Homo sapiens: one gene and its partner. The protein of the gene in region 1 interacts with the protein of each later gene in a pairwise test. Each region holds a gene or a part of one and is shown in the gene's direction. Other genes may lie near its edges.

What was found.
Region 2: the proteins of FDPS (region 1) and RNF19B interact in binary tests that used the Homo sapiens proteins (3 or more experiments, as listed by UniProt).

The regions. Positions count from the first base shown.
Region 1 is NC_000001.11:155,304,846-155,311,865, forward strand, and holds the start of FDPS (farnesyl pyrophosphate synthase), read left to right. Parts: upstream 1-4,020; 5' UTR 4,021-4,120; exon of another isoform or gene 4,121-4,231; intron 4,232-4,943; 5' UTR 4,944-4,944; coding exon 4,945-5,120; intron 5,121-5,197; coding exon 5,198-5,360; intron 5,361-7,020. UniProt on the Homo sapiens protein: Key enzyme in isoprenoid biosynthesis which catalyzes the formation of farnesyl diphosphate (FPP), a precursor for several classes of essential metabolites including sterols, dolichols, carotenoids, and ubiquinones.
Region 2 is NC_000001.11:32,937,405-32,953,695, reverse strand, and holds part of RNF19B (E3 ubiquitin-protein ligase RNF19B), read left to right. Parts: intron 1-1,886; exon of another isoform or gene 1,887-2,216; coding exon of another isoform or gene 2,217-2,402; exon of another isoform or gene 2,403-2,488; intron 2,489-3,921; coding exon 3,922-4,127; intron 4,128-5,329; coding exon of another isoform or gene 5,330-5,332; coding exon 5,333-5,474; intron 5,475-7,131; coding exon 7,132-7,294; intron 7,295-8,067; coding exon 8,068-8,182; intron 8,183-9,536; coding exon 9,537-9,677; intron 9,678-11,236; coding exon 11,237-11,444; intron 11,445-15,167; coding exon 15,168-15,299; intron 15,300-16,291. Other genes in the region: metallothionein-1E-like, read left to right, coding at 2,217-2,402.

The DNA.
Region 1 (7,020 bases):
ATGGACACCATCTCCTTTTATCATTGTGACAACCTAGAAAGAAGGTAGGATCAACAGGCTGTTTTACAGATGAGGGAACTGGGCCGTAGCAAGGTGTGTTCCTTTTCCACTCTGCTGTGGGGCCAGGAGGCTGACGGCTTTGCACAGTGGCGTCTGTAGGGTTTGGAGAGTGGCACCCATAGGAGATGAGATGGAGAGGGTGAGGTTGAGCATTTACCTCCCCAGTTGCCATTCTAGGGACCATTCTCTCCCTATCCCTTGGACCTTACAGGGGTAACAAAGCCCACTGTTATTAGATCTGGGGTAATGCACTATCCGTTGTGGTTTACCAACACCCTGCCCATTCCTTTGTATAATCCTGTTATGAAACACCTTCAAATTATCCCATTTAAGAGAATTCTTTATTTCCTGAAGAAACCCTACCGAATACACTTGTCTGATGCAAAAAGTCTTGTCAGGAGTGGAGCTGGGATTCAGGCCCAGATAGTGGAGCTCCAGAGCCCGAGCTGTAACCACTAAGCTCCATGCCTGCCCCTTGGGACTGTTTCAGTGGGTGGGAAAGGGAGAAGTCTCTGACTCTGGAGTTGGAAAAGAAAGAGAGAGATAGTAGAGAGGACTTCCGGAGGGAAATGAGCATGGGGCCTCATCTTTCTGTATATAGAAGACACAACAAATAAAGAGAGACAAAATTTGTACCCACAGAGAATGTGGCAGACTTCAGGGACTGGGGATTCAGGCCTTGTGCTTGTGGTGTTGGCAGAGACATGGGACTTTAAGGATGGTCTGGCATTACTTTGTTTTTGATACAGGGCCTTCCTCTGTAGCCCAGGCTGGAATGCAGTATCATGATCTCTGCTCACTGCAGTCTCAATCTCCTGGGCTCAGGTGATCCTCCCACCTCAACGTCCCAAGGAGTCGGGACTACAGGCACGCACCACAATGCCCAGCTAATTTTTTTTTTTTTTTTTTTGGTATTTTCTGTAGAGATGGAGTTTCACCACGTTGTCCAGGCTGGTGCAGAACTCCTGGGCTCAAGTGATCTACCCGCCTTCACTTCCCAAAGTACTGGAATTACAGGCATGAGCCACCACGCCCAGCTGTGGTCTGGCAATATTGAACTGACTCCAGAACCAGTTGGGAGGATAGGAATCCCAGATATCCCAGTCCCAAGGGATTAGCAGGAGGTGGGGGGCAGTTCTCCAAAGCAGCCCGTGTCCTGTCCAGCTAAGGGACAGACACTTTGACCTGAAATCAGGCCAGTTTCCTCAGCAGTCTGGCTGACCCTGGTCCACAAGTGACCACATGAAGCATGGTCTGCACTTTGTCACAGGATCATCCCTGAGCAAGAGGCCTGTGGGTGAGAAACAGAAGCCCAGCATCCAAACACAACACTCAGCTTTGTCAGTTGAGAGCCCTCCCTCCTGCCACAAACACACATGCTCCAACAGCCACACTCACACATGCACAGACACAAACGCAGGTGGCTTTTCATTCCACAGGCATGGACTGAACCCCCATATGGGCCGTGCCCCGACGCATGCCAGACTGGAGGAGGTGAGGCCACTGGGCCCAGGTCTCTGCTCAGTGTGGGGATGGAGACAGGAGCGAGGCCAGTCAGGTTTAATAAAGGAAGTCGGGGGGCACTGACAGAACTGTGCTCAGCACACAGAGGGACACCAGGAGAGACAGAGCATTGTGAGTGAGGGCAGAAGGAGGTCAGGGCAGCTTAACAGACGAGGTGCCCCCTGGTCAGACACATACACACACGTAAACATACACAAAGCTCCCCACCATTCCACACACACACACAAATACGTACTCCACTCTAACACTCACACAATATCCACACTCACACATGCAGATTTATGTATCCGGAATTGGTGGGTTCTTGGTCTCACTGACTTCAAGAATGAAGCCGCGGACCCTCGCAGTGAGTGTTACAGTTCTTAAAGGTGGTGTGTCCGGAGTTTGTTCCTTCTGATGTTCAGATGTGTTCGGAGTTTTTTCCTTCTGGTGGGTTCGTGGTCTTGCTGGCTCATGAGTGAAGCTGCAGACCTTCGCGGTGAGTGTTACAGCTGTTAAGGCCGCGCATCTGGAGTTGTTCATTCCTCCTGTTTCATTCCTCCCGGAGCGATCTCGGTTCACCACAACCTCTGCCTCCCGGGTTCAAGCGATTCTCCTGCCTCAGCTTCTCGAGTAGCTGGCACTACAGGTGTGCGCCACCATGCTGGGCTAATTTTGGATTTTTTAGTAGAGATGGGGTTTCACTATGTTGGCCAGGCTGGTCTTGAACTCCTGACCTCGTGATCCGCCCACCTTGGCCTCCCAAAGCTCTGGGATTACAGGCGTGAGCCACTGCACCCAGCCGTGTTTTGTCCAATTCTTTGTTCAAGATGCCAAGAACCTGGACACCCTCCACCGGTGACAGTACCTTATATACACGGAATCATACAGTATCTGTCCTTTTGAGTCTGGCTTATTTCACTTAGCATAATTGTCAGAGGTGCGTGAACCAGAGCAACTCCATCTTGAATAGGGACTGGGTAGAATAAGGCTGAGACCTACTGGACTGCATTTCCAGTTGGTTTAGGCATTCTAAGTCACAGGATGAGATAGGAGATTGGCTCAAGATACAGGTCATAAAGACCTTGCTGATAAAACAGATTGCAGTAAAGAAACTGGCCAAAACCTACCAAAACCAAGATGGCAACAAGAGTGACCTCTGGTGGTCTTCAACGCTATACTCCTACCACATGCTGTGTCGACATCAGGGAGTTAACTGTATATGGTCTACAAAGCAGAGGCATGAATAATCCAACCCTTGTTTAGCTTATAATCAATAAATAACTGCCTGGGCCAAGTGGCTCGTACTTGTAATCCCAGCACTTTCAGAGGTCGAGGTGGCTGGATCACTTGAGGTCAGGAGTTCGAGACCAGGCTGGCCAATCTGGAGAAACCCCCTCTCTACTAAAAACACAAAAATTAGCTGGGCATGCTGGCAGGCACCTGTAATCCAGGAGAATCACTTGAACCCGGGAAGCGAGGTTGCAGCCTCCCACGTAGCTGGAATTAAGGCGCGGACCAGCACACCTGGGTAATTTTTGTATTTTTAGTAGAGAAGGGGTTTTGCCATGTTGACCAGGCTGGTCTCAGATTCCTGACCGCAGGTGATCCGCCCAAAGTGCTGGAATTACAAGTGTGAGACTCATCTTTTTTTTTTTTTTTTTTTGAGACGGAGTCTTGCTCTGTCTCCCCAGCTAGAGTGCAGTGGTTCGCTGGATCTCAGCTCACTGCAACCTCTGCCTTACGAGTTCAAGCGATTCTCCCGCCTCAGCCCTCCTGAGTGGCTGGGATTACAGGCGCGCGCCACCACGCCCGACTAATTTTTTTTTTTTGTATTTTTAGTAGAGACGGGGTTTCACCACATTGGTCAGGCTGGTCTCGAACTCCTGACCTCATGATCCACCCGCCTCGGCCTCCCAAAGTGCTGGGATTACAGGCGTGAGCCACCGTGCCCGGCCCAAGACTCATCTTTCTTAAGCCCTTAAAGCACTTTGCACACATTACCTCATGGTATTACCACCCTCATTCAACAGATGAGGAAAGCTAGTTTCAAGCAAGTTCACTGAGGATCAGAGACGTTAAATGATTTGCCTAAAGTTAGAGAACTAATAAGTGAGAAAGCTAGTCCTGCTGCGTTTTACTAACGTGCCAATCAGCTGCCCAGGAAGATAATGAAAACTTGAGTAAGACAGGCAGCCAAAGCCACAGCGGGGACGTTCCCAGCCTGGCTCGCTTCCGGCACTGACGCCTCCAGCCGCGACCTCTAGACTTCAGCCCTTCCATTGGTCGTCCGTCACAGTGCCACAGTGCGCCATGCTCACACGACGGCCAGCAGCCAATCAGCGCGGCTCATCTTCGCCCAGCCAGGACACGCAGGATCGCGTTATCTGTCCCTCCCGCGGGCACATTGGGAGTTGTAGTCTAATTATATATTTCCGCCCTTAGTGTGGGGAGAGCGGGAACTACTCGACCCACAGAGCCGATCGCGGAGCGGATTCTGCTTTTAGGAGTACCCGCCAACAAGCGGGACCGAGCAGGAATCCGTATCTGGGAACAGGTGAGAGAGGATGTGTGCTGGGCCTTGGAGGAAGGGGGCCGAGACCGGGCCTTACTTCTGTAACGATACTGTGAGGCATCGGAAGGCCAGCCTGTTGTGTCCGTTTTGAAGGTCGGTGGGCTAGACTGGCTGGCCTTCTAGGGGTGTGGAGACTTCCCAACTCTGCCCTTGTGCTTTCCTGGAATCCCCAATATGCCCGGACCCCGGTTTACTCCTTTGCTGCGAGCCCTTCTCTCCCGTCCAGAGTTGCTCCGAGCCTATCTGCTCAGTCCTAGCGATTCCTGTGGGGCTTGGGACGCGCGGTTCAAGCACCCCGGACCATATGGATGCAGCACCCATGGGTTCTCGCTCCAATGCTTCTTTCCTCCTTGGGGCGTAACTCAGACCCTGGGCACCCCTCTCCACTGCCCAGGGGAGACCTGGGTTCTAGATTTGGCTCTGCCTCTACTATCTTCCTACCTCCTAGAGCCTCAGTTTGGCTTGTGTAAAATAGGATGACTTAAGGGTCCTTTCAGCCCCTAATCCTGGGGTACTTTACTCTGTACCGCCTCCTTACCCAGCCTTGTGCACGCCATCTTGAAGGCACTGAGTTCTAGCCTGTTTATTGTAAGTGGTGATTAGTTGGGTCTCAGTCACCCAGCCATACTTTTTTGTTCCCTGCGTATCCTTCCTGTAATTGTCCCCAAGCACATTCCACAAGAGGGAGGGGCACTCTGGGCTAAGGCTGGGGTGGGAGTTATCTGGGGAGCTGCCACCATGCCTCTGCCTTTGGTGCTTGCCCCTGCAGGGAGTGCTTAGTGCCCCCTCCCTATGCCACTCCCAGGATGCCCCTGTCCCGCTGGTTGAGATCTGTGGGGGTCTTCCTGCTGCCAGCCCCCTACTGGGCACCCCGGGAGAGGTGGCTGGGTTCCCTACGGCGGCCCTCCCTGGTGCACGGGTACCCAGTCCTGGCCTGGCACAGTGCCCGCTGCTGGTGCCAAGCGTGGACAGAGGAACCTCGGTGAGTGTGGTTGGGGTGAGGGGCCTTGGGGAGGGGAGCAGCTGATCAGGTTTCTGACTTGTTTTTCTTCTACTTAGAGCCCTTTGCTCCTCCCTCAGAATGAACGGAGACCAGAATTCAGATGTTTATGCCCAAGAAAAGCAGGATTTCGTTCAGCACTTCTCCCAGATCGTTAGGGTGCTGACTGAGGATGAGATGGGGCACCCAGAGATAGGAGATGCTATTGCCCGGCTCAAGGAGGTGAGGGATTCATGACTTGGGGGAGTAAGGCTTTGGTTCAGTTGCTCTGTACCTGTGTGGCATTCACCTGTGGCTTATGGGGGACTTTTGACAGATGTGAGAGAAAGCTTTTTTTTTTTTTTTGAGACAGAGCCTTGCTCTGTCACCTGGGCTGGAGTGCGATGGTGTGATCTCGGCTTGCTGCAACCTCCACCTCCTGGGTTCAAGTGATTCTCCTGCCTCAGCCTTCTGAGTAGCTGGGATTACAGGTGCGTGCCACCACATCCAGCAAACTTTTGTATTTTTAATAGAGACGGGGTTTCACTGTGTTGACCAGGCTGGTCTCGAACTCCTGACCTCAGGTGATCCACCCACCTCGGCCTCCCAAAGTGCTGGGATTACAGGTGTGAGCCACCGCGCCTGGCCGAGAAAGCTTTTACCTGAGGGACTCGAGTCTGCTCTGGAGAGGTTGGGGCCTGGGCAAGTATACTTACTCAGTCCATCAACCGGACTTTTGGCTCTGATGGAAGGTGGGTCATCCAAACTGCTTTGCTTTGGGGGTGGAGGCCTTGAACCTGGCAAGTCTTAGATTTTGTGTCCTGAAATCAGAAGCTGTTAGGTTGGCAGAGACCGGGGAAGAAGGCAGTCTGATATTGTCCTATCTCCCTGGGGCCTGAGTGAAGTTATTGTATCATTAGAAACCCCTATTCTAGAACATGAACTATTGCTGTGATACTTGCCAATTTTTTTCCTGTTGATTCTGGAGTATCTATTAAAATTCTTTTTATAAATGCTGTCTATCTCATATATCTCAGGGGAATGAAGGGAAAGGGGGGCTTTGCCTATACTGGAATGGGGATTAAAAGAGTCTTGGCCCGGCATGGTGGCTCACGCCTGTAATCCCAGGACTTTGGGAGGCTGAGGTGGGGGGGATCATGAGGTCAGGAGTTCGAGACCAGCCTGGTCAACATGGTGAAACCCCCGTCTCTACTAAAAATACAAAAATTAGCTGGGCGTGGTGGCGCCCACATGTAGTCCCAGCTACTCAGGAGGCTGAGGCAGGAGAATCACTTGAACCTGGGAGGCGGAGGTTGCAGTGAGCCGTGATTGTGCCACTGCACTCCAGCCTGAGTGACATAGCGAGATGAAGTCTTCCCTGTTAGTTAGGTCTGATTGATAGCCAGGCAGCAGAAGGCAAAGTGAGATGCAAGAGGAGACACTACTGGAGGAGTGGGAGATGGATCCCACAGCGTGGGTCCCCTGTAAGCTGTCTTCTGGCTGACTTTGGAGAGGCTTTGTTTTAATATAATGAAGGAGGCTTTTCATTTGCAGGAGGGTTGAACCCTGGTAGGCAGAGGTGGCTGGAAAAGTAGGGATGGGTTGTGAAGGGGAAGTCTAGGAGAGGTGGGGATGGGGAAGGAAACTGGGGAGGGACCTGAACAAGCCAGTCATCCCTATAGCATGTACTGAGTTTTCCGTGGGTTCAAGCCCTGTTCTGGGTTTGGGAGCAGCATTTAATCTGCACTATGGAGGTTTTAAATTTATTGGGAGGCCAAGGCGGGTGGATGACTTGAGGTCAGTAGTTCGAAACCAGCCTAGCCAACATGGTGAAACTCTGTCTCTACTAAAAATACAAAAATTAGATGGGCATGGTGGTGGGCACCTGTAATCCCAGCTACTC
Region 2 (16,291 bases), about 120 Mb from region 1:
TTATCTTTAGTAGTTATTTTGCAGCTAGGTGGGGTAAATTTGCCCAGAACTCCTACAGGATATGAATCATTTGCATTCATAGACTGACCTGTTCTCACTTTGTTCTTTCTGAAAAGAGTTTTAATACAGCCTGTATTATATAACATAGGGGATACATTGTCATTTATATTTTCAGCATCATTCTCAAGTCAATTTGCAGACTCTATGATAAACCTGAGAACTTGAGTTGCTATGATTAACATCTCATGTACATTCAAATAAACAAGCAAACTGTAGAATAAATCCCAGAAAATGTTATTAGCTTTTTGTACACGTTATTTGAGGTCTTTGAATATTGCGGGAGAGTATTGGAATAGAGGACAGAGTGCAGATGGCAACACGGAAACCTGCAATTACTGATGTTTTTAAAAATGTGTGTCATAGACCAAGCTTGGTGGCTCACGCCTGTAATCCCAATGCTTTGGGAGGCTAAGGCGGGAGGGTTGCTTGAAGACAGAAGTTCCAGACCAGCCTGGGCAACATAGCAAGACCAACCCTGTCTCTACAAAAAAAAAATAAAAAGAAAAAAGAAAAAGTTAGCTGGGCATGGTGGTATGCACTGGTACTTGGAGGCCTGAGGTGGGATCACTTGAGCCCAGGAGTTTCAGGTTGCAATGAGCTATCATCACACCACTGTCCAGAAGCTGGGCAACAGAGTGGGACCTTGTCTTCAAAAAAAAAAAAAAAAAAAAAATTGTGTGATTAACTTTCATAACTTTCCATTTATTTATTTATTATTTTTTTTAGACAGAATCTCACTCTGTCACCCAGGCTGGAGTGCAGTGGCGCAAACGTGGCTCACTGGAGCCTCAACCTCCCAGCCTCAAGCAGTCCTCCCACCTCAGCCTCCCAAGTAGCTGTGACTGCAGGCCTGTGTCACCATACCTGGCTGATTTTTTTTTTTTTTTGAGATGGAGTCTCACACTGTCACCCAGGCTGGAGTGACACCCATGGTGGCGCAATCTCTGCTCACTGCAACCTCCACCTCCCGGGTTCAAGCGATTCTCCTCCCTCAGCCTCCTGAGTAGCTGGGATTACAGGCGCCCGCCACCATGCCCAGCTAATTTTTTGTATTTTTAGTAGAGACAGCGTTTCACCATGTTGGCCAGGCTGGTCTCGAACTCCTGACCTTGTGACTTGCCTGCCTCAGTGTCCCAAAGTGCTGGGATTACAGGTGTGAGCCACCACGCCAGGCTGTTTTTTTTTTTTTTTTTTTTTTTTTTTTTTAAGAGAAAAGGTCTTGCTGTGTTGCCCAGGCTGGTCTAAAAATGCTGGCCTCAAGCGATCTTCCTGCCTCAGCCTCCCAAAGTGCTGAGATTACAGGCATGAGCCATCTCACCTGGCTAAAATGTTATTTTATACAAGTATTATATTTCTTGTTAGAGTAATCTGAGCGCTTAATTGACATATTTGGAATTAATCAGAAAGGCTAATAGTTATATAAATATATTGGATTGTTTGTGTGAGACTAATTCTTGGTAAATGAACATGAACTACAAGAAATGGTCGACATTAGTGCTGATAAATTCTGAATCTTTACATGAAGAATATGTGTCACAGCTGAGTGCAGTGGCTCACACCTGTAATCCCAACACTTTGAGAAGCCAAGACAGGCAAATCACCAGAGGTCAGGAGTTGAAGACCAGTCTTGCCAACATGGTGAAGCCCTGTCTCTACTAAAAAAAAAAAAAAAAAAAAGCCGGGCGTGGTGGCGGGCGCCTGTAATCCCAGCTACTCGGGAGGCTGAGGCAGGAGAATCACTTGAATTTGGGAGAAGATTGCAGTGAGCCGAGATCACGCCACTGCGCTCCATCCTGGGCGATATAGTGAGACTCTGTCTCAAAAAAAAAAAAAGAATATGTGTCAGAAGAGAGAAAGGGAGGTATGGCCTTAATGCTATTTTAATTTATAAGATAGAGGCCTGGTATTCTTGGATTCTGGAGCCTATCAAGACATTTCAAGGTATAGGTTTGAATTGAAAAAGTATGGAAAGATAAGATGAGCTTTCAAGAGGGATGCTGATCATAAGTCTTTAGGGTTTATTGTCTCTGTGACTATGGTCAGACCAGCTTCACTGTGGAACTGGAACTTAAGAATGAAAAAGGCAGCATGCTTTCCAACTGCCTGACTGCTTGTTGGCCTCACCGGTGGGAGCTCCAGCATCTCCTTTGCTCGAAATGGACCCCAACTGCTCCTGTGCCACTGGTGGCTCCTGCATGTGCGCCGGCTCCTGCAAGTGCAAAGAGTGCAAATGCACCTCCTGCAAGAAGAGCTGCTGCTCCTGCTGCCCCGTGGGCTGTGCCAAGTGTGCCCAGGGCTGCATCTGCAAAGGGGCGTTGGAGAAGTGCAACTGCTATGCCTGACGTGGGGACAGCTCTGCTCCCAGATGTAAATAGAGTAACCTGCACAAACCTGGATTTTTTAAAAAATACAACACTGAGCCATTTGCTTCATTTCTTTTTATATTAAATATGTTAATGACAATAAAACAATTTTTACTTGAAGAAAAAAAATGAAAAAGGCTGAGTGCAGTGGCTCACGCCTGTAATCCCAGCACTTTGGGAGGCCGAGGAGGGCGGATCATAAGGTCAAGAGATCGAGACCATCCTGGCCAACATGGTGAAACCCTATCTCTACAAAAATACAAAAATTAGCTGCGCATGGTGATGCATGCCTATAGTCCCAGCTACTAAGGAGGCTGAGGCAGGAGAATCGCTTGAACCCGGGAGGCGGAGGTTGCAGTGAGCCGAGTCGCGCCACTGCACTCCAGCCTGGCGACAGAGCGAGACTCCATCTCAAAAAAAAAAAAAAAAGAATGAAAAGGTAGCATGGTGGCTCATGCCTGTAATTCCAGCACTTTGGGAGGCTGAGGCAGGCTGATTGATTGAGCCCGGAAGTTTGCGACCAGCCTGGGCAATGGGGCGAAACCCCATCTCTATGCAAATTACAAAAATTAGCCAAGTGTGGTGGTGCGCACCTGTAGTCCCAGCTACTCTAGAGGCTGAGGCAAGAGGATTGCTTGAGCCTGGTATGCGGAGGTTGCAGTGAGCCACTGCATTCCACCCTGGGTGACAGTGAGACCCCATCTCAAAAAAAAAAAAGAAGGAATTAAAAAATAAACTTTAGTTTTTGCCATAGCTCTTTATTTCACTAATGTCCTCTTCCTTCGTATAAACAAATACTAATCTCTCTAAATATAGCAAACTATCAAAAGGAAATAGTTTTGTACCCTGTTATTTATGAAACTTATTATGACAAACTACTCCTAAAGCAGCTTCAGCTATGATTGAATAAATGCTGGAAATCCAGGATAAATAAGATACTCCACCTCCACTTTTTAAAGTAAATAAATGATTTGTGTTTTTGGAATCTCAAGAAATTTATAGCCAGGCATGGTGGCTCACGCCTGTAATCCCAGCACTTTGGGAGGCCGAGGCGGGTGGATCACCTGAGGTCAGGAGTTTGAGACCAGCCTGGCCAACATGGTGAAACCCCATCTCTACTAAAAATACAAAAAAAATTAGCCAGGCGTGGTGGCTTGCACCTGTAATCCCAGCTACTAGGGAGTCTGTGGCAGGAGAATTGCTTGAACCTGGGAGGTGGAGGTTGTAGTAAGCCGAGATTACACCACTGCACTCCACAATCCAGCCTGGGTGACAGAGCAAGACTGTCTCAAAAAAAAAAAGTTTACTTTCTCACATGGGATATATTTTACAGTTGGTCAAATGTGCTTGTGTGTGTATATGTGTGTATGTGTATTCTTTTCTCTGTATCATATGTGATAGTGGGGTAGTGCCAAACATTGTTAACTCTGATGAATAATGTCTCTTTTGGTTAGATCATTCTTACCTTACTGGTATCTCTTACTGTTTCCTTACCTAGTTATGCTGTTATTGCCTATGGCTGTGCCAGCTGCCCGAAGCTAACTTGTGAGAGGGAAGGTTGCCAGACTGAGTTCTGCTACCACTGCAAGCAGATATGGCATCCAAATCAGACATGCGATATGGCCCGTCAACAGAGGGCCCAGACTTTACGAGTTCGGACCAAACACACTTCAGGTCTCAGTTATGGGCAAGAATCTGGACCAGGTATAAGTTGGCATTATCTCATTGTCTCTTTATTTGGTATTTCATGATGTGAGCCCATAGCTGAAAGAAATTATCTTATTGTATAACCCAAGTACTCCAAAGGATCAGAGAGCAGAAAATATCATTTGATAATACTTTCAATATTATAATAAAGATAGCACTTCCCTCTCTGACCATTATAGGTTATCCAACTATATAAAATTGAAATGCAACAAAATTGAATTATGTAGTTCCTACTTTCTTAGTAATATGTCTCAGATTGGAGAGCAATTAGTTCATTTTGTTTTGCTAGGGGCTTTTTCAAAACTTTCATTGTGAACAGAAAGACATTTAATTAGTATTAAACCTGTGCTGTTTGCCTTCAAGCTGACTTAAGTGCCTCACTGCCTTTGGAAGTAGAGTACAGATTGAAGAAAAGGAAACAGTATTAGTATAGATTAATGATTAACCTTAAAAGGAGGAATGTCACACATTCAGCTCCAACCTTGGCGAGTCAGAGGAAACCTATTTTAAAATGTCAGTGGATTTATTGCTTTGTACTTTTATTTTGCTGATGTCATTTGGGAGAGGCTAGTAGGAAAGATTTTGCCATTCACTTTTTCCTGGCACAGCATAATTTCCTAAATTGTCATTTTATTAGGATAGTTCATAACTTGCTCTGAAAATTACCAAGTATATGGTAGATAGCATACCCAGTTGTTTTTAGGTTTTGAATTTGAAAGTATCATGGGAAGGGATTGTGGGCTATGTTAACAGCAAATCACAATGATACATGTTGAACCTGAAAAATAAATTTCCCAAACTAAAGTTTTTAAAAATGTAAAGCTAATTCCAGGCTGCAGGCTATTCTTTCTGTAGGATTCTTCTTTTAAATCTACCAGCCTATCGACTGGTAGAAATTTCATTTTTCTTGGAAACATCTTTCTCCCTAAGGAAATCTCCTTGCTAGAATGTGGTTCAAGTGCTGTGTAAGATGCCAGTTGTTGGGATAGGCAGCTCAATAAGAGACAGGATTCATTTTATGAAAATTCCTGAGGTCTAGACATAGCCAACCTTCCAGTAAAGTGGGTTGTACAATTTGGAGTGTTCAGTGAAGAGTTCTTGACTGCTGCCTCATTTCTTATATATACTCCTAGGAACAATTAAATCAAACTGGATTTAACTAGGGGTATTTTTTCTACCCATTCTTCCCCCACTCATAGCAGATGACATCAAGCCATGCCCACGATGCAGTGCATACATTATCAAGATGAATGATGGAAGCTGTAATCACATGACCTGTGCAGTGTGTGGCTGTGAATTCTGTTGGCTTTGTATGAAAGAGATCTCAGACTTGCATTACCTCAGGTAAGATGGGAAATGCATCCATTCCTTTCGTAGTCTCATTCTCTTACTGATTTAGGGAAAAGGATGTCAAAAAGACACATCCGTTCTCTCATTACAGGTTTAAGGAAGCTGTGAAAACTTCTTCTGACATGCTCCTCTAATCATGTTTTCACCAGCTACTATTCTGTTTCTACCTTTCTTTGCTTGCCATATTACAGGTAGTCTGGACTTGCTTTTTCCCTTTTGCTGTCTTGCCTCCATACTTGTTCATGTTCTTTCCTTTGCCTAGAATGCTTTCTGCCTACCTTCCAGTATCCTCCTTTTATCTCAACTTGTTCAGTTCTTATCTTTTAAGAGCCACTTAAATGCCTTTCATCCATGTTGCCTCTCCTTTTTCCGCCTCATTCTTTGACTTTCTTTTATCTTTTGTCATAAATATCGTCAGTACTTTACACTTCACGTACCTATCTTATCTTACTAAACTGTAAGTATCTTGAGGCTAGAGTTGTGACCTTTTTACAGTTTTTTGCATTTAGTGAGTTCCCAAGGAATTCATTAAGTGAATTCTTTTTTTTTTTTTTTTTAAGACAGAGTTTCTCTCTGTCGCCCAGGCTGGAGTGCAGTGGCTCGATCTCGACTCACTGCAACCTCCACCTCCCAGGTTCAAGTGATTGTCCTGCCTCAGCCTCCTAAGTAGCTGGGATTACAGGCACCTGCCACCATGCCCAGCTAATTTTTGTATTTTTAGTGGAGGCGGGGTTTCACCATGTTAGCCAGCCTGGTCTCGAACTCGAACCTCAGGTGGTCCGCCTGCCTCGGCCTCCCAAAGTTCTGGGATTACAAGCGCGAGCCACCGCGCCCAGCCTCATTGAGTGAATATTAAAATGTTGTGGAGGAGTTAATATTTACAAACAAAATGTTTGCTAATATTTACAAATAAACAAAATGTGTTAATATTTACAAACAAACATTCATTGTGTAAATGAAACACAACACCTTCATTGCCAATTTGTCGAACATTTGAGTACTTACTGTGTGCTAGTCATTGGGGACATAGGGGTGAGTAAGACATGATCCCTATTTTCAAAATTGTTTATCCCTTCTAGTGGAGAAGATAGCACAAAGAGAATGGGCAAAAATGGTTGGGCACAGAAGGGCTGACTGTAAAAGTAGCCAAACTCAGAATACCAAACTGATAGAAAGGTTATGATGAGGTCTTTTTATATCCTCTCCCACGAACATGGTTTGCAGTATCTATTAGGTATGGTAGGACATATGCCAAGAAAACTACACAAATCAGAGTGTTCATTAGTGCAGGGTGCAGTGTGTCTGGATGGGATGTCAAGTGCATAAGGCTATGCAGCATCCCAAGTATTGTCAGTCATGGAAGCTAGATCAGTTTTGGTGGGTTAGGGAAGACAGAATTCAGCAGAGAAGAATGGAAAAGGAATTTCAAGTCTGGAAGCCTGTCTTTACAACAACAACCAAAAAAGTTAAAGAGCCCAGAGCTCTAATAGTCTGGCCTTGTCCTTTGCTCTCCCTTGTGTAATGTATTCATTTCCCATAAACTCTTCTGTTAATCCTTACTGAAAAGAAGGCTGTTGCTGTTATCAAGCCCTATGATAATACTAGCTGTATTTGTAATGTTGACATTAACTTCAGTCTGTTTCCCCTGCAGCCCCTCTGGCTGTACATTCTGGGGCAAGAAGCCATGGAGCCGTAAGAAGAAAATTCTTTGGCAGCTGGGCACGTTGATTGGTGCTCCAGTGGGGATTTCTCTCATTGCTGGCATTGCCATTCCTGCCATGGTCATTGGCATTCCTGTTTATGTTGGAAGGAAGGTAAGAAAGACATGCTGGTTTCTGTGCTTGTTTCAACTTTAGGTTCGTTAGTAAAGGTTTGAGGGAAATGGGAAGGAGCTATGTTTCAGAGCTGCCTGAAAACCAGCTGGTTCTTAGATAAAAATAACCTTACTTTCTTAAATGGATTTTCATAAACCCCCATGAGATCTGAAAGTTCTTATTAACATCCTGGGCCTGGCTTGTCTCAGTGACTTAAAGGTAGAATGCTGGGCCAGGCATGATGGTTCACATTTGTAATACGTGGCCTAGCACTTTGGGAAGCCAAGGCAGGTAGATCAGTTGAGCCCAGGTGTTTGAGACCAGCCTGGGCAACATGACAAAACCCATCTGTACCCAAAAAAATAGAAAAATTAGCTGGGTATGGTGGCATGTGCCTACAGTCCCAGCTACTAGGGAGGCTGAGGTGGGAGGATTGCTTGAGCCCAGGGACGTAGAGGTTGCAGTGAGCCAAGATCGCACCACTGCACTCCAGCCTGCATGACAGACTCCAAAAAAAAAAATAAAAGAAGAAGGTAAAATGCTTACTTCATTCTGCTGGAGTTATTTTGTCTCTTTTTGGATTAACTTTGCCTGTATTACTTTATATCTTCCAGGTCTGAGTTAGGTTAAAATTTGATAAAGATGCCTATTTGGGGTAGAGGATATGTTTTAATATAGATAACTTACAAGTGAATATTCACCTGTCCTTTTTTTCTCTGGCAAAAGATTGATGTCCTAACCTGCTGACCTGGATTTTCTTTTTTTATTCTTAGATTCACAGCAGGTATGAGGGAAGGAAAACCTCCAAACACAAGAGGAATTTGGCTATCACTGGAGGAGTGACTTTGTCGGTCATTGCATCCCCAGTTATTGCTGCAGTTAGTGTTGGTAAGCTAGTCAGGACCACACCTCTTCTCTCTCAGCTTTCTGACCATAGCAGTTTAGCCAGATGGCCAGATGTTTCTCAAAGACTCCTACATTTTATGCGAACCCACCTTGATAGTAAATTCTGTTAGGCACCATGATTATGATTATTTTTAAGTTTTTCAAGCACACCAAATTATCAGAGTGTGCAATCTTTTGTTCTTAAGTTAGTGCCTAGAACTCCATTTGGCACATAGAAAAGGTTGAATTACAGAAACTTATTTTAAGCCCTAGTTTTCACCTTTCATCTTCCTTCTCTACTTGCCATGAAATCCACAAAACAAAATTACTTTTGTTTTGATTTGTTTAATGCTTCACATTACTTTGGGAGGCATAAGAGTTTGTTTTAGAATAATAATAGTGTAACTAACATTTAATGTGGCTCTTCATGTGCCAGGAGTGGTTCTGAGACTTTTGCATATATTAATTTATTTAATCCTCACAATCCTTACAAAAGGAAGCACAATTTTAATAGAAAGGTGCAGTAATTGGCTGGGCGCAGTGGCTCACGCCTGTAATTCCAGTGTTTTGGGAGGCCGAGGCGGGCGGATCACGAGGTCAGGAGATCGAGACCATCCTGGCTAACACGGTGAAACCCCATCTCTACTAAAAATACAGAAAATCAGCCGGGTGTGGTAGCGGGTGCCTGTAGTCCCAGCTACTTGGGAGGCTGAGGCAGGAGAATGGCGTGAACCTGGGAGGCGGAGCTTGCAGTGAGCCGAGATCGTGCCACTGCACTCCAGCCTGGGCAACAGAGTGAGACTCCGTCTCAAAAAAAAAAAAGAAAGGTGCAGTAATTTTCCCAAGGTCACTTAGCTGGGACATGAATCAAGTTAATCTGCCTTCAGATCCTGTTCTCTTAACAGCTAAGCCATTCTACCTCACACAGCAGTAAGATTTTGGAATTAACATCCTGAGGAGATCCTAAACTCCAAGCAGTAGTCACTTATTTAATATTTGATTCTTGATTGGCTCTTGATTGGGTTAGCATTTCAGCAGTGATTAGAAGAGGGGAAAATGAAAGCAACATATATTTACTGTGCAAAACACAGTACATAGCATTCTCATTTGATTATTGACAACCCTGGGAAGATAGGTCCAAGGTTATACAGCTAGTAAATGGAGCCAAGAATCTAATCCAGACCTTTCTGATTTCTAGCCTGGTCATCATTCTGTTACACCAGGCCACCTTTTTGGGATAGCCACTTTCTGTCTTCCTTTCTTTATAAAGTGGTTTGTCCATGCCCAGACTGGGAAGAAGAATTCAGGGCACTTGCAACCTAATAGCCAGCTGACATGTTTCCTTCTCTTCCCCCAGGTATTGGTGTCCCCATTATGCTGGCATATGTTTATGGGGTTGTGCCCATTTCTCTTTGTCGTGGAGGCGGCTGTGGAGTTAGCACAGCCAACGGAAAAGGAGTGAAAATTGAATTTGATGAAGATGATGGTCCAATCACAGGTAAAAAGCAGGATGTTTATTTCCATTTGAATTTATGATATACAAGATAAAAATCAGTAAAATTCAGCGCATTTTACAGGGAGATTGTCATTGGATTACTTTGGATAATGAGCTTTGTAGGGGGTAAAGTATTTTTAGCTTTTCATTTCTTTGTTCCAAAGTTATTAGGTTAATTCCCCTGGTACTTGCCTCTGTGTGGCAGGTACAAACTAGTAGGAATCCAAGTAACTCCAAGTATGCTGGTAGTAGTAGTGATTATAATAACATCTTTATATCTGCACAGTACTTGATAATTTTCAGAGTATTTTACACAATTATCTCACTTGCTTTTTACAACAAACAGCTCTCTGACGAGGGAGGATGGAGCTGTTATCCCCATTTAAATGGGAATTTCTTTTTTTTTTTTTGAGACGGAGTCTCTGTCACCCAGGCTGGAGTACGATGTCGCGATCTCGGTTCACTGCAACCTCCGCCTCCCAGGTTCAAGTGATTCTCCTGCCTCAGCCTCCTGAGTAGCTGGGACTACAGCAACGTGCCACCACGCCTGGCTAATTTTTTTTTTTTAGTATAGACGGGGTTTGGTGTTTCACCGTGTTAGCCAGGAAGATCTCGATCTCCTCACCCCATGATCCGCCCACCTTGGCCTCCCAAAGTGCTGGGATTACAGGTGTGAGCCACCACATCTGGCCTAAATGGGAATTTCTTTAAGCTTTCATCTTACTATCTATTAAGAGCTTCACAGAGCTGAGACTAGGGCAAGTCTTCTGACTTTTACTTTAATGTGGTTTCTACTCGTAGTAAGTAACGTAGGGCACAAGTAACGTAGAAAACCCCAAAGGTTTTTCTAGCTTCCTTTTTTCTTTTCTTTTTTTTTTTTTGAGACGGAGTCTTGCTCTGTTGCCCAGGCTGGAGTGCAGTGGCATGGTCCTGGCTCACTGCAGGCTCCGGCTCCTGGGTTCGCGTCATTCTCCTGCCTCAGCCTCCCGAGTAGCTGGGACTACAGGCACCCGCCACCACGCCCGGCTAAATTTTTTGTATTTTTAGTAGAGATGGGGTTTCACCGTGTTAGCCAGGATGGTCTCCATCTCCTGACCTCGTGATCCGCCCGCCTCGGCCTCCCAAAGTGCTGGAAGTACAGGCGTGAGCCACCGCGCCCGGCCGGTTTTTCTAGCTTTCTACTAGAAGCTTCCTATTAAAATCAGCACATGACCCAAACATATTTTTTAAATCTTCACGTTTGGTTACATGGAAGCAACAGTGTAGTGGAAAGAATAGTGGCCTTGGAATCAGAGTTATAGTTTCATGTAACTACCATGGCCTTGGACAAGTCATTTAGTTTTAAATTTTAGTTTTCTCATCTAAAATTGAGGCTATTAATGCCTAGTTATTTGGAGGATTAAATATGAACATATGTTAAAACACCTGATATGTGGCGACTGCACACAGTACCTGTTCATTAAGTAAATACATTAGTTCTCTGAAAAGTCATTGCAGGAAAATGCCTACTGACTGTTTTGATGCTCTGCTGTCTTGAATTGGATGTTTGGTTCTATCCCCAGTGGCAGATGCCTGGAGAGCCCTCAAGAATCCCAGCATTGGGGAAAGCAGCATTGAAGGCCTGACTAGTGTATTGAGCACTAGTGGAAGCCCTACAGATGGACTTAGTGTTATGCAAGGTCCTTACAGCGAAACGGCCAGCTTTGCAGCCCTCTCAGGGGGCACGCTGAGTGGCGGCATTCTCTCCAGTGGCAAGGGAAAATATAGCAGGTAAACAAATAGATAATTTCTGACAGAAATGGTTAGAATTATAAGAAGTAACACATTGAGCCATTTCTCTGTGCCAGGCTTGTGCCACGTATCATCTTATTTTGATTTAATTGTCAATGGTTTTGTTTTGTTTTGTTTTTACTTTTTTATTTTTAAAGACAGAGTCTCACTCTGTGGCTCAGGCTGGAGTGCCATGGCGTGATCTCGGCTCACTGCAAGCTCCGCCTCCTGGGTTCAAGCGATTCTCCTGCCTCAGCCTACTGAGTAGCTGGGATTACAGGCACCCGCCACCACGCCCAGCTAATTTTTTGTATTTTTAGTAGAGATGGAGTTTCACCATGTTAGCTAGGATGGTCTCAATCTCCTGACCTCGTGATCCGCCCGCCTTGGCCTCCCAAACCGTTGGGATTACAGGCATGAGTCACTGCGACAGGCCTTTTTTTTTTTACTTTTACAAATAGGAAACAAGCTTAGAAAAAAAGGTTACGTCAGTTATGCAAAGTTCATTGTTCTTTCCATTGCACCATAGCTGCCTCTATATAAAGAATAATCCTGACTTGAGATTCCCCCTTGACTGCCTGAGGCTGCCTGCTTCAGGAAGGGAGAGTAGGCATTTTTATAGAATTCGTAAAATGCTCTCCGTTAGGCTTGTCATTGGCTTTCAGTAGCATTTATGCTGTATCATGGCTTATTTATTTTATTTTATTTTTTTGAGACGGAGTCTTGCTCTGTCGCCCAGGCTGGAGTGCAATGGTGCAATCTTGGCTCGCTGCAGCCTCCACCTCCTGGGTTCTAGTGATTGTCCTGCCTCAGCCTCCCAAGAGGCTGGGACTACAGGCGTGCACCACCATGCCTGGCTAATTTTTGTATTTTCAGTAGAGACAGGGTTTCATGTTGGCCAGGCTGGTCTCAAGCTCCTGACCTTGTGATCCACCCGCCTCAGCCTCCCAAAGTGCTGGGATTACAAGCATGAACCACCACACCCAGCCCATCATGGTTTATTGATAGTGGGCTTTGGGGATTTTTTTTTGTTTTTTTTCTCACTGTGTCATCCAGGCTGGAATGCAGTGGCACAATCATGGCTCACTGCAGCCTCAACTTCCTGGACTCAGGCAATCCTACCACCTCAGCCTCCTGAGTAGCTAGGACTACAAGTGCACACACCACACCCAGCTAACATTTTAAATTTTTTGTAGAGATGGGGTCTTGCTCGGTTACCCAGGCTGGTCTTAAACTCCTGGCCTGAAGCCATCCTCCCAACTTGGCTCCCAACGTGCTAGGATTATAGGCATGAACCATTGCCCCCAGCTGGTTTAGTGATACTGCAATCCTTATTACCTTTCTATTTCCATTTGCTAGATAAGGAAAATCAATTCTATGTACTTGTGTTGAAAATATGTAAAGCTTTGTAACTAAAAAGATTGTGACTTGCTTGGTCATTTCACTAGTTAGGCAGACCAGAGTGTATATTTTCAGAGGAGCATAACATGTTGCCTGAGAAGCAGTTGAATGCAACGGAGAAGAAAGGCCTAGGGAGGGGTAAAGGTAGAACAAAGCAGGATAGGAAGGTAGAGGAGATGGTTGCCTTCAGCTATCCAAAGGACCTTCAACTGTGAAAAGGATTAGACTTCTATGCCTCATACCAAAAGGTAGATTAAGATGACTTGGCAGAAGCTAAAGGGAAACTAATTTTGGTTCAGTATAGAGAATATAGGGAAAAGCAACATGAAAGCCCAAAGAGGAAAAAGGCTACTTTAGTAGATACTGAGCTGCCTATCCCTGGAAATGTTTACAATGAGACCAGATGGCTATTTGGCTATAAGAAGGATTCAAGCAACAGATGGCAGGTGGACTGGATCTCCCACCTGAGTGCCTGTCAATCACTTGGGAGCCTCTTAAAAATAGACTTCAGGGACCCATCCCAGAATGAGTAGCTTAGAATTTCCTGGAGTGGCACCTAGGGGGTGATCCGTGTTTTGCAAAAGCTCCCCAGGTAATTCTAGCACAGCCGTTGCATGAACCAGCATCTGACAACCACCTAAGTAGGAGCCCTTTCTGAAAGACTCTTCCAACTCAGAGTGATTCTGTGGCAGACCTGAAACTAGAAGCCAGGTCTCTGACACTGTGCACTTTCCATTGCATTCCCTCATTTCCCTGGGCCTTGGCACATTTTTGAAGGGCACCTGAAGCTGGAGCAGCAAAGCAAAGGCTCAGGCAGTAGGATGGAAGCTGCTTGAATGTGCAGCTGCAGGCTGCTACTGACCCGTCTGTGCATCTCATGACTCTGGTTGTCTCTTATCAGGGGATCCCGCCCCCACATGCTGGCATATTCACTGCTGTGCTTTCTTAAAACCAACACCCCTGTAAATAAGCAGACAGACATAATTGGAGACTGACTTGCTGAAACTGCAGCTTAGCCAGTCCAGCTGTTCTAGTTCTGTGAAAGCCTTTATTTTATAGGAAGTGAATGAGTCAGATGGGTTTGACTGTGAAACCCATTATAAGGAAATACTTAACTGTGCAACAAAGTGATGTTGGAGCCAAGAAAGGCAATAGTTATGGGCTCTGAGACACTATTGGGAAAGTTTGCTGCTCCAAGAGGAGGGAAGAGGTTGGCTCCTGTATGTCCTTCAGTCTCATTCCCTGGAGGTAATTTGATTGTTAAATGTTTGATTTCCTATTATGTGCAAGGCAGGGAAGGTAAAGTGTGTATGAGTTGTGGTCTCTCCTTTTGTGGAGTTAACAGACAAGTGAGAGATGCATAATAATAAGTAGGCAGGGCCTGCGCACGCCTGTAATCCCAGCACCTTTTTTAGGTGGGTGATCACCTGAGGTTTAGAGTTCAAGACCAGCCTGGCCAACATGGTAAAACCCCATCTCTACTAAAAATACAAAAATTAGCTGGGTGTGGTGGTGGGAACCCATAATCCCAGCTACTTGGGAGGCTGAGGCAGGAGAATCGCTTGAACCTGGGAGGCAGAAGTTGCAGTGAGCCAAGATCGTGCCACTGCACTCCAGCCTGGGTGACAGAGTGAGACTCCCTCTAAAAACAAATAATAATAAATAAGTAGGCAGGTGCTGTGGGAGTACTTAGCAAGAAGTGAATGGTTTGCTGGGATAATGAGGGGAAGTGATAGTTCCTTTGTTGTTAAGGACTGAGTATAAGTTTGTCTGGTAGAGAAAGGAAATTTCTAGAGAGACAGAATAGCATGTGCAAAGTCATGGAAGTATAAAATGTATAGGTATTTAAAGAAAGAAAGAATTCAGAGTGACTATGATTTCGGATCTATAGGGAGTGATAGAACTGGACAGAGAGCTTCCTGGCAGATCAGGAAGACCTTAATGCCTGTTGGCAGTAGGGAGCCAAGAGTTAGAGAATTGTTAGAGTGATTGGGTCTTTATTCACACTGGCACTGTTCTAGAGGTTGTTTGACTTGGACTTAAGGGCTACTGGAGAGGGAGCCCAGTTTTAGTCATCCAGGCAGGAGATGATGAAAACCTGAAGTTCAGCAGTAGCTGTGGGGATAGAAAGGAGGGGACGATTTCAATAGATATTTAAGAGAAAAAATGTATGGGCATCTATTTGCGCTGTTTGACAGTTGGAGAAGATCAGACAGACAACCACAATTTGCAAGAGAGTAATGGAAGAGATGTGTGCCAGGAAGCAGACTGTCTTGGAATACCCAGGTCTCATATTAACTTGAACGTCCCCTCTTTACACAGGTTAGAAGTTCAAGCCGATGTCCAAAAGGAAATTTTCCCCAAAGACACAGCCAGTCTTGGTGCAATTAGTGACAACGCAAGCACTCGTGCTATGGCCGGTTCCATAATCAGTTCCTACAACCCACAGGACAGGTATGTGAACAGTCAGATGTCCAGGAGAGGTTGCATTTTTTCGTTGGGTACTAGGTCTTCAGAAGTTCAATGCCTCATGTTAGGGCTGTATGTACCATCTCCTGGGATATATAGTGTAACCTGTGAATTCATTTGAGCAAGTTCTTGGTACTTGAGTGTTTGGCATCTCTTGATTCTTCTTGTTAGCGCTTGATTTTTAGAGATTTCTTTTCTTTCTTCCTTTTATGTATTTTTTCTTTTTTTTTTTTTTTTTTTTGTCTTTCTTGGCTATTGCAACAGTGTATAATTACATGGAACTTAAAGAGCTAGATTGATGTTCATTGATGTCTTCAAGTCTAGGGTTTCTGCTTGCCCTTTGCTTGATAGGATTCCCATAGCTTCTTTCTCTTTCATTTTGAGAAACTGGTGTATCTGGGATGGTGTGATTGTGGTACTCCCACTAGTAGGTATTCTGGCTTCTTCTACTTGTGGCATGGTAGTAAAAAGCTTTTACTTTTCTATTTTGAGTAAGCTAGCATGGGGCTCTGACCCTTAGTTGAATTTTGGAAGCTCTTTCTGTATGTTTAAAGAGATTGGCTGAGATACACGTGTGTGTGCATCTGAGCACACGTGTGCATGTATAGTTAAATCAGCAAAAAGGATCTAATTACTCTTCTCCATCTCATTTATTTTTATTTTTGTTTTTTTAGAGACAGGGTCTTGCTCTGTCAACCAGGCTGGAGTGCAGTGACACAATCATAACTCACTGCAGCCTTGAACTCCTGGGTTCAAGTGATCTTCCCATCTCAGCCTCCCGAGTAGCTGGGACTACAGGCACGTGCCTCCATGCCCAGCTAATTTTTTTTATTTTAGAAACAGGGTCTGACTTTGTTGCCCTGGCTGGTCTCAAACTCCTGGACTCAGGCAGTCCTCACACCTCGACCTCCCAAAGCGCTGGGGTTATAGGCATGAGCCACCACGTCCAGCCTCCATCTCATTTGAGTGTTAGATTA